Regions from separate parts of the Homo sapiens genome. Here region 2 is linked to region 1. A link means that fine-mapping ties the variant in region 1 to the expression of a gene that starts in the linked region. Tissue or cell type: whole blood. Region 1 holds a variant in brackets; the other region holds the start of a gene. All regions are shown on one strand. Distances are between the middles of the regions.

The links. PIP is the estimated chance that this variant, and not a neighbour inherited with it, causes the effect.
Region 2: LINC00487 starts here. The variant in region 1 is fine-mapped to the expression of LINC00487 in whole blood (TOPMed, PIP 0.99).

The regions. Positions count from the first base shown.
Region 1 is chr2:6,834,326-6,842,433 of GRCh38, forward strand. NRIR (negative regulator of interferon response) reads right to left here and starts at 6,139. Exons shown (of 4, transcript NR_126359.1): 1 at 5,966-6,139. It also overlaps a transcript of CMPK2 not described here. The variant A/G (reference allele first, on the strand shown) is at 4,365.
Region 2 is chr2:6,765,684-6,773,791 of GRCh38, forward strand. It overlaps LINC00487 (long intergenic non-protein coding RNA 487), which reads right to left and starts at 4,628. Exons shown (of 6, transcript NR_038369.1): 1 at 4,396-4,628. LOC105373404 (a long non-coding RNA gene) reads right to left here. Exons shown (of 4, transcript XR_922745.3): 4 at 7,140-7,700. RefSeq lists an enhancer at 7,484-8,108.

The sequences.
Region 1 (8,108 bases):
TCTTATTATGAAGACACTAGTCATAATGGATTAAGGTTCACTCTAATCCAATATGATGTCATCTTAACTTGATTACATCTGCAGCAACCATATTTCCAAATAATGTCACATTCTGAAGTTCCAGAAAGGACATCAGTTTTAGAAGGTCACTGTCCAATACAACTATGATATGCCTAGGCATTGTTTTCTTTGGATTTACAATGATGGGGGTTCACTGAGATGTTTTGAATCTGTAAATTTATGTTTCACTATATTGGAGAAACATTTTGTGAAAACATTTACCCATAAAAGGGGAAATATGGTTCCTTCACATTTAAAAAACATTTCATTCTCATTCTCTTTTCATTCTAGAATTCCAATTAGACGTATGTTAGATCTTTTCATATTGTATCACAAATCTCCAATGCTTTGTTTATATTTTGGAGCAGATAATTTCCACTAATCTATCCTCAAGTATATGGACTCTTCCCTTTGTCAATTCTATTACACCGCTAAAGCCATCCAGTGATGGCTTTTAATTTCAGCTGTTGTAATTTTCAGTTCTATAATTTCCATTTGATACCTTTTTAGAGTTTCCACTTCTCCACGAGCTTTCCTATCTTTTCATTTATGACATGCATATCCTTTACATCCTTGAGCATAATTATAATAGCTGCTTTAAATTTCTTATCTGCTAACTCCAACAACAGGGTCACCTTGGGGTTATTCTCAATTGATCAATTTCCTTCTCTTGATAATGCTTTATATTTTCTTGGTTCCTTGTATGTTTCATAATATTGGATTGTATATTGGATATTGTGTATATTACATGGTGGAGACTCTGGATTCTGTTATAGTCCTCTAAAAAGAATTGAGTTCTAGAGGGCAATTAGCTTCATTTGACAAGAACTGCACACCTTCTTTTGGATGTCAGCTCAAATCTCATACAAATATTTTAACTTTTGGTGAAGTCTATCCTGCACATCTATGATTTGTGAATTAGCCAGAGATTTGGGCAGAGTATATACTCAAAATTTAGGGTTTCCCCCTTTTGGCTATCTTTTTTGCAAGATTGTCCTTCATTTCCCAGTGGTCTCATTTCATAACAGAAAGACCCTTATGTCTTTTCTATCAGGGTTTAGTCACCAAGGTGGAGCTGACATGGGCCTATCATTAGAATAAAAACCTAAGACATTCCTTTCTTCCAAGTTTCAAGTCCACTCTAAAATCTTCCTCTCTTCTTTACATTGCCTGCAGAACATTTTTTTCTCCAGAGTTGACAGTTGTTTTCCACAGGAAGTACAGCTATGATAAGAGCTTACTTAGTCATACCAGGTGCAGAAACAACATGGCATTGAGCAGAAGACACTGTAGCTGAGGAATTACATCTGTTTCTAAATTATATAATGACATATTTGAACCCAGATAAAAGGAGGGAAAAATATGACTCAGAGAACAAATTGCCATGAAGTCAACTTTTCAATCTGAGTTTGTTCATATCTTTTCTGCTTCTGTACAAGTGATTAATGCACTCTATATCTCAAAATTCAGTGGTGAAAATGAATACTGACTTAACATTGGCAAGAATCAAGAAACTCCATTTGGGATCCCATCAGAAAAAGAAAGACATATATTTCAGGGCCTTCTGAAGACCTGGTCTGTTTTCTAAGATAATTTAAACTGTCACTTACAAAGTTGTATATAACAAAAATAAATTTGAAGGATGTCTGCCCATTTCTCAAAGCCAAGCTCCATTCCCTTCCCTATAAATTTTTTTCTAATGTGTGCTTATATCAATATTAACTCATTTCACAACTGCCTATGCCATACCCAATAGTCCTTTGTTATATATTTACTTTTCTATTTGAGAATAATAAAGTTAGAAAGTAAGAGATCAGTTATACAAACTCACCATAAATGAGCACATTAAGTATATGTTAAGATATAACATTATTTTCTCTGAGAGAGAGAGAGAGAGGGACTACCAAATCACCATACCTTGAACAAGATAGAGATGAATGTTCCTTTCCCGTAACAGTTCAAGGTAAGCAGCAAGGGCAGGTGAGCTGACTCTACCATCTCAACCTATAACTTCCCTCTCACAGTCAAAGTGACTTCTTCAATTCTTATTATCTTCCAATGAGCAGAAAGGCAGAAAAGGACTATGGGATCTGAGCACAACCCTCTGTGAGAGCAAAAACAGTCCTGAAGAGGTACATATTTATCTGCTCACACCCCATTGGCTAGACCATACTTCAGTGGCACATATGGTTGCAAGACAGTCCAAGAAATGCAGTCATAATCTAGAAAGTCATGCATCCAGCTAAAATTCTGTCACCAAGAATAAGTGGTAAGTAGATACTGTGGGACAAACAGCATTATGTCACTCTCTAAATACATGAAATTTATGAGGACTAAATCCTGACATATTCTTGACTCCTTAAATTTGCAAATACCTCTCTCCCATATAATATATACCTTAAAATGCACATTGAACAAGAGATAATCACAGAATTGCACTGACATTGTGGTGCTAGGCTCAGCTGGCCCAGCCCTTTCCACAAAGGAGTGGTTAGCTATTTTCCATGTCTGCCTCACAGACTGTGATTTAACTTCATGCTTTGGAAAATGGTGTGTTAGTAGCTGGCCATGTGCCTTCAACTTGCTTAGGAATATTTGAAACTATGTAAGTGGATCAGTGCCTGATCCCAACTGTTCATTGGATCAAATGGAAAACACACACACACACACACACACACACACACATCATTCCTGAACAGTCTGACTTAATGGATCTGTAGCAGGGTCATGGCATCCCTTGTTGTAAAACTTGCACAGGTGATTCTAATGTATAACCAGAGTTGGGAACCACTGAGCTAAGACATTCAAACTCCACGTTGGCTGTGGGAGACATCAAAAAGCATTGGGCATGTCTCCTGGCTTCAAAAATATTTTAAACTGATTCATTGTCCATATCACATAATTCGTACTTTATTATATATTCTAATCCTCTAGTGTAACTTATGTCTAGACTATAACTTTGAGAATTAAACAAGAAACATGAATTGACTGTCATCTTTGTACCTGGCACTTTCAGGGTATGACAACTTTTACATAGGAAAGCGTCAAGGTTCCTTCTCTCAAGGCACCCTAGTCTAGCAGATAGAAAGAAAACTCCACAGGATCTAGTCTGTTAAGCTCTAAGCAATCAATCAATAATTGCATATAATTGATTTCAGTATTTTCTTTAATATGCTTAGTATTTGATATCTCATGGGTTCTTTTTATTTTTTATCTTATTTTATTTGAGATGGAATCTTGCTCTGTTGCCCACGCTGGAGTGCAGTGGCACCATCTCAGCTCACTGCAACCTCCACCTTCCGGGTTCAGGCAATTCTCCTGCCTCAGCCTCCCAAGTATTTGGGACTACAGGTCGAACTCCTGACCTCAAGTGATCCACCCACCTCGGCCCCCCAAAGTGCTGGGATTACAGACGTGAGCCACTACACCCAGCCTCATGGGTTCCTTTTAAATAGTTTTAGTACTGGCTGGGCACAATGGCTCACACCTGTAATCCCAGCACTTTGGGAGGCTGAGGTGGAAGGATTGCTTGAGCCAAGGAGTTCAAGACCAGCCTGGGCAATAAGGTGAAACTCCATCTCTATAGAAAACATAAAAATTAGCCGGGCATGGTGGTGCATGCCTGTAATCCCAGCTAATTGGGAGGCTGAGGCACGAGAATTGCTTGAGCCTGGGAGGTAGAGGTTGCAGTGAGCCGAGATCAGGCTACTGCACTCCAGCCTGGGTGACAGTGAAACTCTGTCTCAAACAACAACAACAACAACAACATTTTAGTCCCATATGTTAGTGAAGGTGTCCTAGGTTCTTGGTGCAAAAAGTAAAAGAATATACATTCAACTCTGTGTGGATCAGAAACCCAAATCAAGAATGGCTTAAACCAGGTAGAAATGTGCTCATCACATGTACAAGGAGGCAGGGCCCAGGGCTGTGGTGGCACTCCACATGGGAGTACCATTCATCTTTTTCTCCATCTCTCTGGTTATAGCATTGAGTATGCAAGGTCCAAACATTATCACAAGGCACACGGGAAAAAGAGGTCCTAGTAGAGAGCTAACCAGGTCCAAAACAAAGACTAGAATCCATTAAAAAGGGATTGTAGCCAACTGAGTTTGCATTTTCACCTAATTTGTCAATGATTCTAATTGAGTCTTTAAGCACTCATAAATTCTCCTCTACCTAACTGGAGGTGTTGATCCAGAAACAGCATGTTTCATTTACAAATGCACAAGCGCCCCTTACTTCAGCCATAAGGACATCAAGAGTTTGTCTATTTTGCATGGCCACTGAGGCCAGAGAATTTATGG[A/G]CTGCTCTTGGGCTTTTATGGCTCCTACAGTTACCTTTCACCCTTGTTACATCATGATAGAAATATTAAGCACTGATCTTTCAAGAAGGGGAACACCGCCAAGCCAAAATAGGCCTCTGGCTATTGCATATTTTATTCCGTTTTTCTAATATAGGATTGCCATGTGCATATTCTTGCCAGTTCTCTCTCTTTCATTTTAATCTCCATATGATGGCATAGAGATAAGTGATCTCCTGTTTTGGTATGTGTGATGGAATGCACTTTCTGTAAAAGAGCCCAAATTGGCGATGTCACCCAACAATGCTACCCTGTCAGTGGGGTTTAAAAATAACAAATTGGGGACCATTGCCACTATAGTGCATGTTCCTCTCCAGCGCCTGGGGAGGAATAAGCATAGCCTGGAGCCACAGAGAAAGTAAAGCCCTGTTCCCTGAAGGGATGGTTCTATGTTGTGATTTATGAGGGTTCCAGCTAAGTTTAGTCCAGGCCTTATAAGGTTGCCTTCCCTACATCTAATTCAAGCATCTTTAGAATAAGGATATCCATACTTAGTATAGTCATCCACAGTATTGTTTGGAACTTTACATGCTGGGAGGGAAGAATCTGTTTGGCAAATATAGTTTTGAAAGATCAGAGACGCAATATGTTCCAGCCAGTATCTTAGACAACCCTCCTTACAGCGGCTATTGGCCCAGACATCCCCTGTTCATTCACAAATCTGCAGATCACTGTCATTATCAAATATCATACAAGGGTCCAGGATTCCATGTGTGGGCATGTTTGGGAAGGACCATGTGCTATTTATTACCTGATAATAAGGTTGGCGAGGGGTGGCATTTCTGCCCGGGGTAGACATTCCCATTGGGAACTCCACCTGGGAGGTCTGGCTAGATTGTTAAAATTTTTCCACAGTCTCTCCCAATGTTTGGTGTCACCCTTGTTCCTTCTTAGTCTCCAGATCTCTGTGCTCTCAGCAATTACAAGCATACTGTTGCAATTATTTAAGGTTTCCCGAGTATGGTCCTTTTCCTTTACTCTTAAAGCAGAGACAGGCATTGGCTATCATTCTATCAACTTCACCTAGTCTAAGGGTGTGAGTTTTACCATCAGGAGGTGTGTCTTTCTGGGTGGAGTTAAAAATGCTCCCATACCATGTTCCCTTTATACCTATTAGGTCCTTAATGATTTAAGGTAAAGCCATCAGAGGGAAACCCTAAGATAGTGAGTTCTGAATCATCAAAGAGTCCATTGGTGTTATTAAACTGAGTAAATTGTTCAGGGCAAACCCAGTAATCAGTCTTGTTGTAGAGATCGGTAATATCTGATATTGTAGGAGCCAAAGAATGTGAGGCATTGCTACATCTAACAGTGAATGCTAGTAAACTTGATAGTAACAAAATCTTCATGTTTATCTCTTGCCTGTGACTACTATCCCTGCTATATGAATAATAACTAAGCAAAAGATTATGGCAATTGAGACTCTTTTCCCAATATTCCACTTAGAAGGTGCCACAGTATGCAGTCCTACTGCAAAGAGCAAGGTGAGTACAACAATTCCCATATGTGTGAAGTAATAAAGTTCCACTTTAAATCTTACTCACCGAGATATATAATTTCTTCGTGGGGGTGGTTTATGAGGTTATGAATGGAATCCCATGGATAATCAAAATCTCCCTGTAAGTATGTGACAAAGAGAAGTTCTAATATCTAACAGCAAATCTCAAGAGGAAAGGTAGAAATGACTTTAGTATCTGGTAAGGAAGGGTGGGATTGAACTGAACAGAGAGTTCCCACTCATTTACTTATCTTTTGGATTTTCAGTTTGAAATCCCCAGACTTTTCACACTGATATCTGAGATGTTCTTCTGGGATGTCAGGGGTCATTCCAGGCCTTGACTCGAGTGTGATGAATCCAAGATTCCAGTCCCACAAACTTCACTGCCGAGCAGGTGGAGAGAAGGATGGTATAAGGTTCCTCCCAGCTGGGACCTAGAGAGGGGAAAAGAGAGGAAAAATCCTTCACCAGTACCAAGTCTCCTTGGTAGAACAGAGGTGGCCCTAGTTCTTGGGGTTGGAATTCTGATAACTGTTTTAATTCCTGCTAGAACTGGGCCAGGGAGGTTACATGTTTAACCAATTCAGAAGTTCTCTGATGTAATATAAAATCATTGGTAAGGAAAGGCCGTCCATATACCATTTCAAAAGGGTGAAGGAACACCCCTTCAACCCCAAATTTGAAGGGGTGCTCCTCACCTGCACTAAGGCTATAGGAAGATAAGCAGTTTAGAGGAGGTGAGTTTCTTGAGACCACTTCCTGAGGTGTCTCTTAATGATATCATTTGTTTTCTCCACCTTCCCTGAAGACTGCAGTCTTCAAGCACAATGAAGATGGTATTGTATGCTCAGTGCTTTTGAGACCCCTTGGGTAACAGCTGCCTTAAATGAGGGGCCATTGTCACTTTGGAGGTATTTAGGGAGTCCAAAACGAGGAATTATTTCATTGACTAATGCTTTTATCACCTTAGAGGACTTTCTGTTTGACATAGAAATGCCTCTACCCAGCTAGTGAAGGCATCCACCCACAACAAGAGGTGCTGAATTCCCCTTATCTTTGGAAAATGGGTAAAATCCATTTGCCAGTCCTCCCCTGGGCAGTTTCCCATTCTTTGTGTTGCTGGGGATGGGGAGATGCCATTTGTTGAGGGGATTGTTTTTGAGGCAGATCTTATAAGCATTAACAATTTGTTTGACTGTTTTTGGTAGATATTTACCTGAGAACAACCTCTGGGCTATTTGATGAGTTTTATTCTTTCCCAAGTGAAAAGTTTGGTGAAGGATCTTAAGAACTTTCCACTGACTGGAGACTGACAAATAACATTTGCCATCCTCTGATTGTAACCATCCTGAGGGCTGAAAAGTGTATCCTCGAGAGGTGGCCCATTCTATCTCTGCAGGAGAATACTGAGGCTTTATTTCCCTTATGGAGCCCTCCCAAATTAGACAGCCTTCAAGTGTGCTGGGACTTTGGGGTCTTCTTACTGCTGACTTAGCTGTTTGGTCTGCTAGCCTATTTCCTTCAGCTATTTCATCCATCCCCTTCTGGTGTCCTTTGCAATGTATCATTGCCACTTCCTGCAGAAGGAAAACTGAGGACAACAATCTATTTCCTAATGGTATTTAATAAAAGAGCCATTAGCAGTCAGGGAGTGTCTTTCTTTCCAAATAGCGGCATGAGCATGAAGAACCAGGAAAGCATACTTAGAATCCATATATATGTTAACTGCCTTAGCTTTGCTTAGTTCAAGCACCCTCATGACAGCAATTAACTCAGCTAATTGAGCACTGTACCTGGTGAAAGAGGTGTGCTTTTAATGATGTCATCCAGGGTGACTATTGCATACCCTGCCCTACAGGTTCCTTGTTCTATAATAGAACTTTACTTGTAAAGACAGCCCAGTCTCAGTTTTCTAGAGGAGTTTCCTGGATGTCCTCTCTGGCTGCATAGGTTTGCATCACTATTTTTTCACAATCATGTTCAGGTTCTCCAATTTCATCTGGAAGGAAAGTGGCTGAGTTCAGGAAAGGACAGGCCTTTAACTGAACTGCAGATCCCTCCAGCAGCAAAACTTAATATTTGAGGAGGCGATTATCTGTTAGCCAGAGACTTCCTTTAGAGGATAACAGTCCCTTTACATTATAGGGGGTGTAAACAATCAGGTCATTCCTCATGCTCAACTTAGTCAC
Region 2 (8,108 bases), 69 kb before region 1:
TCTCACTTCAGAAAGGCCTCCGCCCAGGCTTGGATCCCAACTCTCTTCCAGGGTCTGGGGCAGTGGAGCAGCCCCCACCAGCTCTGTTAAAAGCCTTCGGGCAAATGGAGCTGCCCTTTCCTTTCCTGTTTAGTATCAAGGTCACCGAATGGGAGCATCCGGCAGACCTAGGCAGCCTCAGACTTTCTGAGACTCGATTACAAAGCCTACTTTTTATGGGAGTCGGTTTCAAACATCTGTTAAGATTGGGCAGGATAAGAGAAAACCCATCTTTATGAAATTTTTTTTTTTGAGATGGAGTCTCTCTCTGTCACCCAGGCTGGAGTGCAGTGGTGCGATCTCGGCTCACTGCAACCTCCACCTCCCAGGTTTTAGCGATTCTCCTGCCTCAGCCTCCCGAGTAGTTGGGATTACAGGCACGTGCCACCATGCTCAGCTAATTTTTTGTATGTTTAGTAGAGATGGGGTTTCACCGTGTTAGCCAGGATGGTCTCAATCTGCTGACCTCGTGATCCACCCACCTCGGCCTCCCAAAGTGCTGGGATTACAGGCATGAGCCACCACGCCTGGCCCAAAATCATTTATTAAATTTTTTTTAAGGTAAACATGTCATAAATGAGGCAAACATTTAAAAATGTGTAAAATGCATTCATTGTAGAAGACGGACCTGTCTCTCTCAATTGAAATTAAGCAAACAGTGATCTTCGCTGGCTACCGAATTGTTTGGAAATCCTTCATGATGTTATCCCTCATATCTAATGCCCTTATTCTTTAGATAATTAAAACATTGCAGTAGGAAGAGGATCAAGATGCAGTGATGCAAACACAACTTTGCAACGGGAATTCAGAAGACTGGATTTTTGTCTGATCTGGGGACAACGGGTGGTCCCAGGAGAAACCCTGACCTTTCTTTGTCTCAATTTACATTTCTGAAAGATTAGGGAATTTTGAACATTTTAAATGTTTATATCTTATATAACACTAACTGATCATTGCTTTCATTTAGACAAAACCAAAATGGCAGCCAGGTTATTGCCAGTGACACATTTGAAGTTGTAGGACCTTAAGGTTCCAGAGTTCCTGCCTCTTTTCGCTAACCTCATCTCATTTCACTTTCAACTGCAGGCTTGTGAAAATTAAGCAAAACCAAACCAAAACACAAGCTCTATGTGCTATGGATAGAAACTGCTGGAAGAGTTATAAATTTTTTTTTCTTTTTATATTATACTTTAAGTTCTGGGATACATGTGCAGAACATGCAGGTTTGTTACATGAGTATACACGTGTCATGGTGGTTTGCTGCACCCGTCAACCCCTCATCTACATTAGTTATTTCTCCTAATGCTATTCCTCCCCTAGCCCCGCCACCCGCCAACAGGCCCCAGTGTGTGATATTCCCTCCCTGTGTCCACGTGTTCTCATTGTTCAACTGCCACTTATGAGTGAGACTATGCGGTGTTTGAAGAGGTATAAAATGTAAAGACAGCTCTACGGTGTGGCCCAGAAGCTGTGCTTCTCACAGGTTCCCAGGCGGTGCTGGGGACGCTGGCCCAGGGTCTCCACTCGGAATCACTGCCATCAGGTGTCTCATTCTAACGCTAATTCAAAATTATTAAGGGCCACTGTGGGCCTTCTAACATATTCCCTTTTTTGAAAGAGTTCTCTGAAACTGAAACCTAACTAAGACTCTGAACTAAAGTTAGGAACTCATTTTTACTGATTAAAAAAAAAAAAAAAAAAGAAAGAAAAAAAAACTATAGCCCTCGCTAATATTGCTTCTAAATAGCAGGGCAGACAGGCAGTCTGGGCGCACCCAGTCATGATGGTGTCACTCGCCCTTCCCCAAATCCCCATCAGGATGAATCAAGGCAACATGACCCTCTGGGAACATTCCCCAGGCCCTTCCCCCAGTATGGCTTCTGGGAGCAACTGTGGGGCCAGGGGGTTTCCCAAAAGCCAGCTTTCCCATGACAAAAGTGCACAGAACATGCCCCACCCTTCAGTTCCTACGTCCTTGGAAGCACCAAGCAAGTCATACAAAGTCGTGGAATCACAGAGGATGGATTCACATAGGACGTTTCTAGTAAAACAGTGCAAGCTTCTCCTTGGCCAAAACCAGAGGGCTTCCTTCTGATGCCCCAAGTGGTGCTTGGGTCCCTGGCCAGGGAAACAGTTCACTCTCCCAGTACCTGCCCTTGTGCATTTGTCATAGGATTAGAAATGAGTAGCCAGCATGCTCATGGCCGTGTATTACAGCATAAATATTCAGAAACTTGCTTTAGACATCACTTACAGATTCTTTCCTGAAACTTCACATAGAACGTACAGAAACACAAGTATTGTGTGAAGCAGTTGTGGGGCCAGGGAGGTGCCCGGGCTTTGAGGGCACGTAGCCTTTGCCATGCAATAGCTTCTGGAATTACACGCATGGCCTGCTCCCCAGCTTCCCCACCAGCAGGGACTGGGGCGTGGACCGGGGATGGAGACTGGGGGTGGGGGTCCACCTGTGGACCTCCGATAGGAGGGAGCTGCTTGGCCCTTCTCTGGCCCATCTCTGGCAGGCAGTTGCTGGACAAACTGCAGAGGTCTCCACCTGCAGCATCCAAGGCACACAGGCTCTTCATAAAAATCCCTTTCTCCTGTCCCCTTCCAATTGGTGGCAGCTGCCACTCAGCATCTTTGGTTTTAAACAGTGAAATGGCTTCCCAGATGTCAGGGGGGAAAATCAGTGCAAGGCCTAGACTCGGAATTCCAAGTCGCCCCATCCAGATAGCTGCACCGAGAAGAGAGAAGACACAGGACCGTTTTGTCGTTTTCATTTCCGTTTTCTTTTACTAGGAAATTGAAATCGGGTTTCTGGTCTCCGCACTACGGGCTCAGAGGGTTCTTTGGTGTTGGGGAGGCATCGAGCCTTTGGTGCTGCACACACCCTAAACCCTGGCTCCACCCGTAGATGCCAAGAGCCCCCTCCAGCTGCGATCGCCAAAAATGTTTCCAGACTTTCCACCTACCTCCAGGGGCAAAATCACCTAGGATGAGAACCACATAATTCAGGGGCGTCCAGTCTTTTGGCTTCCCTGGGCCACATTGGAAGAAGAATTATTGTCTTGGGCCACACATAAAATACACCACACTAGCAATAGCTGATGAGCTAAAGAAAATCATAGCTGAGAAATCTCAATGTTTTTAAAAGGTTTACAAATTTGGGTTGGGCTGCATTCAAAGCCACCCCAGGCCACATGGGCTGCAGGTTGGACAAGTTTGAAATAAGTTATGCTATGGCAAACAATAAGCTGATATTATACAAATATTTTACTTACAAAAAAATAACTACCATAAAAAGATGTACGTGGAGGCGTGTGTGTGTGTGTGTTGGGTTGTGTGGGAAGGGGTGTGAGCATATGTGTGTGTTGAATGTGGGTGTGTGTGTGTTGGGTTGTGTGGGAAAGGGTGTGAGCAAGTGTGTGTGTTGAATGTGGGTGTGTGTGTGTTGGGTTGTGTGGGAAGGGGTGTGAGCATGCGTGTGTGTTGAATGTGGGGGTGTGTGTGTTGGATTGTGTGGGAAGGGGTGTGAGCAAGTGTGTGTGTTGAATGTGGGTATGTGTGTGTTGTGTGGGATATAAGTCTGTGTAATGTGTGTTACATATGATGCATGTGTTTATGTGTGTAGTGTGGGTGTTGGTGTGTGTGTATGTATGTATCTGTGTGTTTACATCTGTGGTGTATGTGTATGCATGTTTGTGTAGTGTGTGTTAGTGTCTGTGTATGTGTGTGGTATCTGTGTATTTTTGTGTGTAGTGTATGTGTGTGCATGTTTGTGTAGTGTGTGTTAGTGTCTGTGTATGTGTGTGGTATTGTGTGTTTATGTGTGTGGTGTATGTGTGTGCATGTTTGTGTGTGGCATGTGTTGGTGTGTGGCATTTGTGTGTTTATATGTGTGTTGTGTGTATGCATGTCTGTGTGTATATGTGTGGTGTCTGTGTGTTTCTGTGTGTGGAATATGTGTATGCATGTTTGTGTGTTGCATGGTGTGTGTATGTATGTGTGTGATATCTCTGTGTTTGTGTGTGTGGTGTCTGTGTATTCATTTTGTGTGTGTGGTGTGCACGTGTGTGGCATGCGTGTGTTTAAGTGTGTGATATATACATACACACGTGTGTGTTTATGTGTGTGGTGTATGTGTATTCATTCTGTGTGTGTGGTGTGCATGTGTGTGGCATATGTGTGTGTACGTGTGTGGTATATACATACACACATTTATGGATGGGGGTGTGTGTGTGTTGTGTGGGATATAAGTCTGATGAGGTAAAGAAGCTCCAGGAGATTCTCTTTGGTTGAATCTCATGCCATGAGACTTGGCTTCTGGCCACGATGGAGTGAGAAGCCTGGACTGACCTTTCTGCCTGGAGCAAGGGAACACCGTGTAGAACCGGCACGGCGCATCTTCCAGACGGCAGTGCCCAGGCTGCTTGGCAGGCACCCCTGCAGGAGGGGTCAGGGAGGTGGGCACCCAGCGGTCCCTCAGCACCCGTCCCGTGTGGCACAGTCCAGCCGCCTCCCAGGGCCGAGGAGGGGAGACGCAGGCTCCTGGGCTGCTCCCACCCAGGCCCCTGGAACAGCGCATCTTCTGTGACCGTGGTGAAGGAAAATCTCAGCCTCTGCTTCCCACCTCCTCAGCCCCTGCCTCAACAGGAAGCCCACAGCGCAAGAGACGCCATTCTAGGGCCAGGAAGGAAGAGCCTCAGACCCTGGAATTGCCATGTACAAACTAGACGTGTATTTATGGTGTGTCTGAATGTACAACAATTTCCTGTTTCGGAGAAAATAGTTCCTTCCTGGAAGGGCTGTTCTGTATTTGCACACTTTTCCCATGTGATTTTGGGGAAAAGTACCTGACTTTCTGTGAATAGACGCACTTTTTCTTACCGAAAATAATGATAGTTTCAATCTGGCTATAATCGTTCATATTCATGATTTTTTTCGGATGTAGAAATCAGCAGTTTTGCATTGTAAGACCTCACCCATCCACCACTCACCGTCCCCACACCCCTGGGAACAGGAGGAACCTCACAGAAGAAGAAGGTGGATTTTACTACCTACTTGCCACACCTCAATCTCTCTGTCTGTAAGCAGAGAGAATACGGTAATAATAATATTAATAATGATAATAATAATACCTTTCTCACAAGTTCGCAGGGAGGGATGAGTTCATGCACATAAAATGCTCAGCCCAGCACAGCTGAGCACACGATTCTCAGCACTATTACTTGCATTCTTGTCACTGAAAGGAAGAGGGAACGGAGTGTGACAGCGCAGGTTAGACCCCCGGCGCAGCCATCCACCTGCCACTTTGTCACAGGGACTCCACGACTAACTGCCGCCCTATTTTCCCATAAGCAGGCAATGGTGATGATAAAATCATTCTCAAAGCTTAGGGAGGCCAGGACCCAACCCAGGGCCGATCAACGCAAAGCCCTTGCTGCTTCCTATCCCATAAAACCCAATTATTTATGAATGTGAACCTAAAGCCGCATCCTAATTTAGAAGGCATGGAGATAACATGGCCAAGCAGCCGCCTCTCCAGGCAGCGAGATGACTAGGTAGGTCCCAGAGCCCTGAGCATGTCCCCTAGAAAACAACTCAAGACAAGTGCATTTGCATGCCTTCTTCTGTCTCTCTGAAATCACTCAGTTATAGTCACTCAGTGTGTGCTCACAAACACTGAGTCTCCCCTACACGTGATGCATTTCAGTACCAGGGCAATTCGAGTGAGAAACATGGCCATAGCCCCCAGCCTCTTGGACTATCAGAACTCTTAGGAAGTACAAGGATTGAAATATGTGGTCTAACAGCAGAGCGGTATTTTTCTCATTGTACCACCTTGTTGTAAAAAATTGCTGGAGCCTGAAGGAAACCACCTATGGGAAGGGTGTGAGTCAATGGTTCCCCACTTCTGCAGAGTTCCTTCTGAGCAGCTCAGAGCCCACCCCGTGTGGACACATCTCTTACCAAGATGACCTTCCCCTAGCGGGAAACGGAGGAATGAGCAGGCGGCACTCACAGTGCCAATTACAGCAAGGGGATTTGCATAGGAGACCTAACTGCCTGTTTCAATTAGGAGCAGCAACTCCCTCCTTCTTCCTTCCCAAGGAGCCAGGAACACCAGGCATGTGGGTTTGGATTTGTCTGGGAGGAGGCATGACTGTGCGCACCAGAGTGAAAGCCTCCCCACTCACACTGCTCACCTGGAGAGAGGCTCAGGGATCCTGGCAGGCGCAATGTTTGAGAAATGCCCAGGCGAAGAAGATGAATGCTTCCTTTCACCGGGCCCTCCCTGGCTTTAACTCTTCTTAGTCCTGTCTCTGGGAGACCCTGGCAGCCCCTCGCAGCTGTGACCTCTCTAAACTGTCAGCCTCAGATTAACTGATACTTCATCAATTTTGCCTGAACTGCATTTGCAACCCGGTCTCAAGAGGACAGCCAAGTGCATCAACGCTGGGCATTAACCCCCCAGAACCAGATTGCCTTCAAAACGAGGGGGACTTTTCCAATATTCTCACAGCGGCCCGGGCAACAAGCCTAGGGGGACTTTGGCCAGAGGGGAGAGAAGGGGCCTCTGATTATTCCTTGTAAATTTTTCATGAGGACATCTGCCCATACTCTGCGCCTCCTCCAGAGCTGCCCTCTCTCTCTCTCTCCCTTCCTCTGTCTCTGTGTTCAGGCCTCTGACAAGGCATGAAAAACGAGAATGATTGGGCCTCAGTCCCCATTAGCCAGGAAGTGACTGATGGGAGGATGGGCGTGTGTGGTGACTTCAGGCTTGGGAGGGGCCGGGGCTGCCGGGTTTTGAAACAAAAGACCAGTCAGGAATGGATGAGTCCTAGGTGGATCTGCAGATGGAGGCTGTGCTGTGAGTAGGTGGCTAAGGTGCACAGATGGTCATGGCTGATAGGCCAGCCTGGCCCGGGCTCCTGGTTCTGCAGACCCCAGCTCTGGGCTGGAAAATCGGTCCCCGCCTCCCCCATCTTCCCCAAGATTGTCCCCGTCCTTCCTCGGGCAGACCTTCACCGTGGAGCAGAAAGCTGCCTACAATATCGCCCAAATCAAAGCCAAGAAGAATTAGAGTGTAGGGACAGGGGAACAGGGAAGTGCTTTTTTAATTTAAATAATAAAAAATAAAAAATAGTCATTCTTTTGGAAATACTAGCAGCTTACAAGCTTTAAAATCCTCTTTCCCAACAGTTTAAATCAAAAGCCAGCAGCCCTTTCTCATGGATGCATCAAATCATGCAGATGTCCTTTTTGTGCCCCCTTTAAGGTGACATGTGCTTCAATTTATTTTTAATCTTCTAAGTGATGTCATCAGGACGCCGCCCGGGTGACACGGGAGGTGGCTGCTCCTGGGGCTGTGGGTCTGGGCAGTGCAAGCTCCACGCGCACTGACCCCATGGGCTCAACCCAGAGTCCACAGTCAGAAACCGGCCCCGGGCGGCAGGAGACGCTGCAGAGGGAGATTCCATAGAAGAGGTAAATTCATTAAGAAACTCATCACCGAGCACACCTTAGAAATCCCACCTTTTGTGCTCAACGTGGCCGGGTCCCCGGGGACGCCGTTGGCAGCTCTCCATGGAGCAACAGTGCCACCCAGTGGTCAGTCCTCGCGATGCCGCCGCCCGCTCCCCTGTGCGGTCCTCAGCGGCCTGGGAGAAGACAGAGAAAATGAGTTGGTACAAACGCTTGCCCCGAATATCACATCTTTAAATAGTTACCCACATGAAAGAAGGCCTGCAACTGATTCAAAACCACCTCGATGAAAAAAATCTGAGCACACCCATCAAAGGCACTGCGCACAGAACTCAGGAATGTTTTCTGCTGTTTGGAGTTTTCTTCTCCCCTCCTCCCTCCTCAATAACGATACTGGTGATTACATCTTCCAGGGGAAAATAAAATTAAATGCATCGACTTAATTGTTTAATTAGTGTGAGCATAGGTAGTACTATCCAATTCAAAGATCTAAGCAACTGAAATTCCATTTGGAGGGAGTTCCCCCACTACGGGAAAAGGAAGCAGGAGTGTCACAGGATTGGGGATCACACAGATGGAGGGAG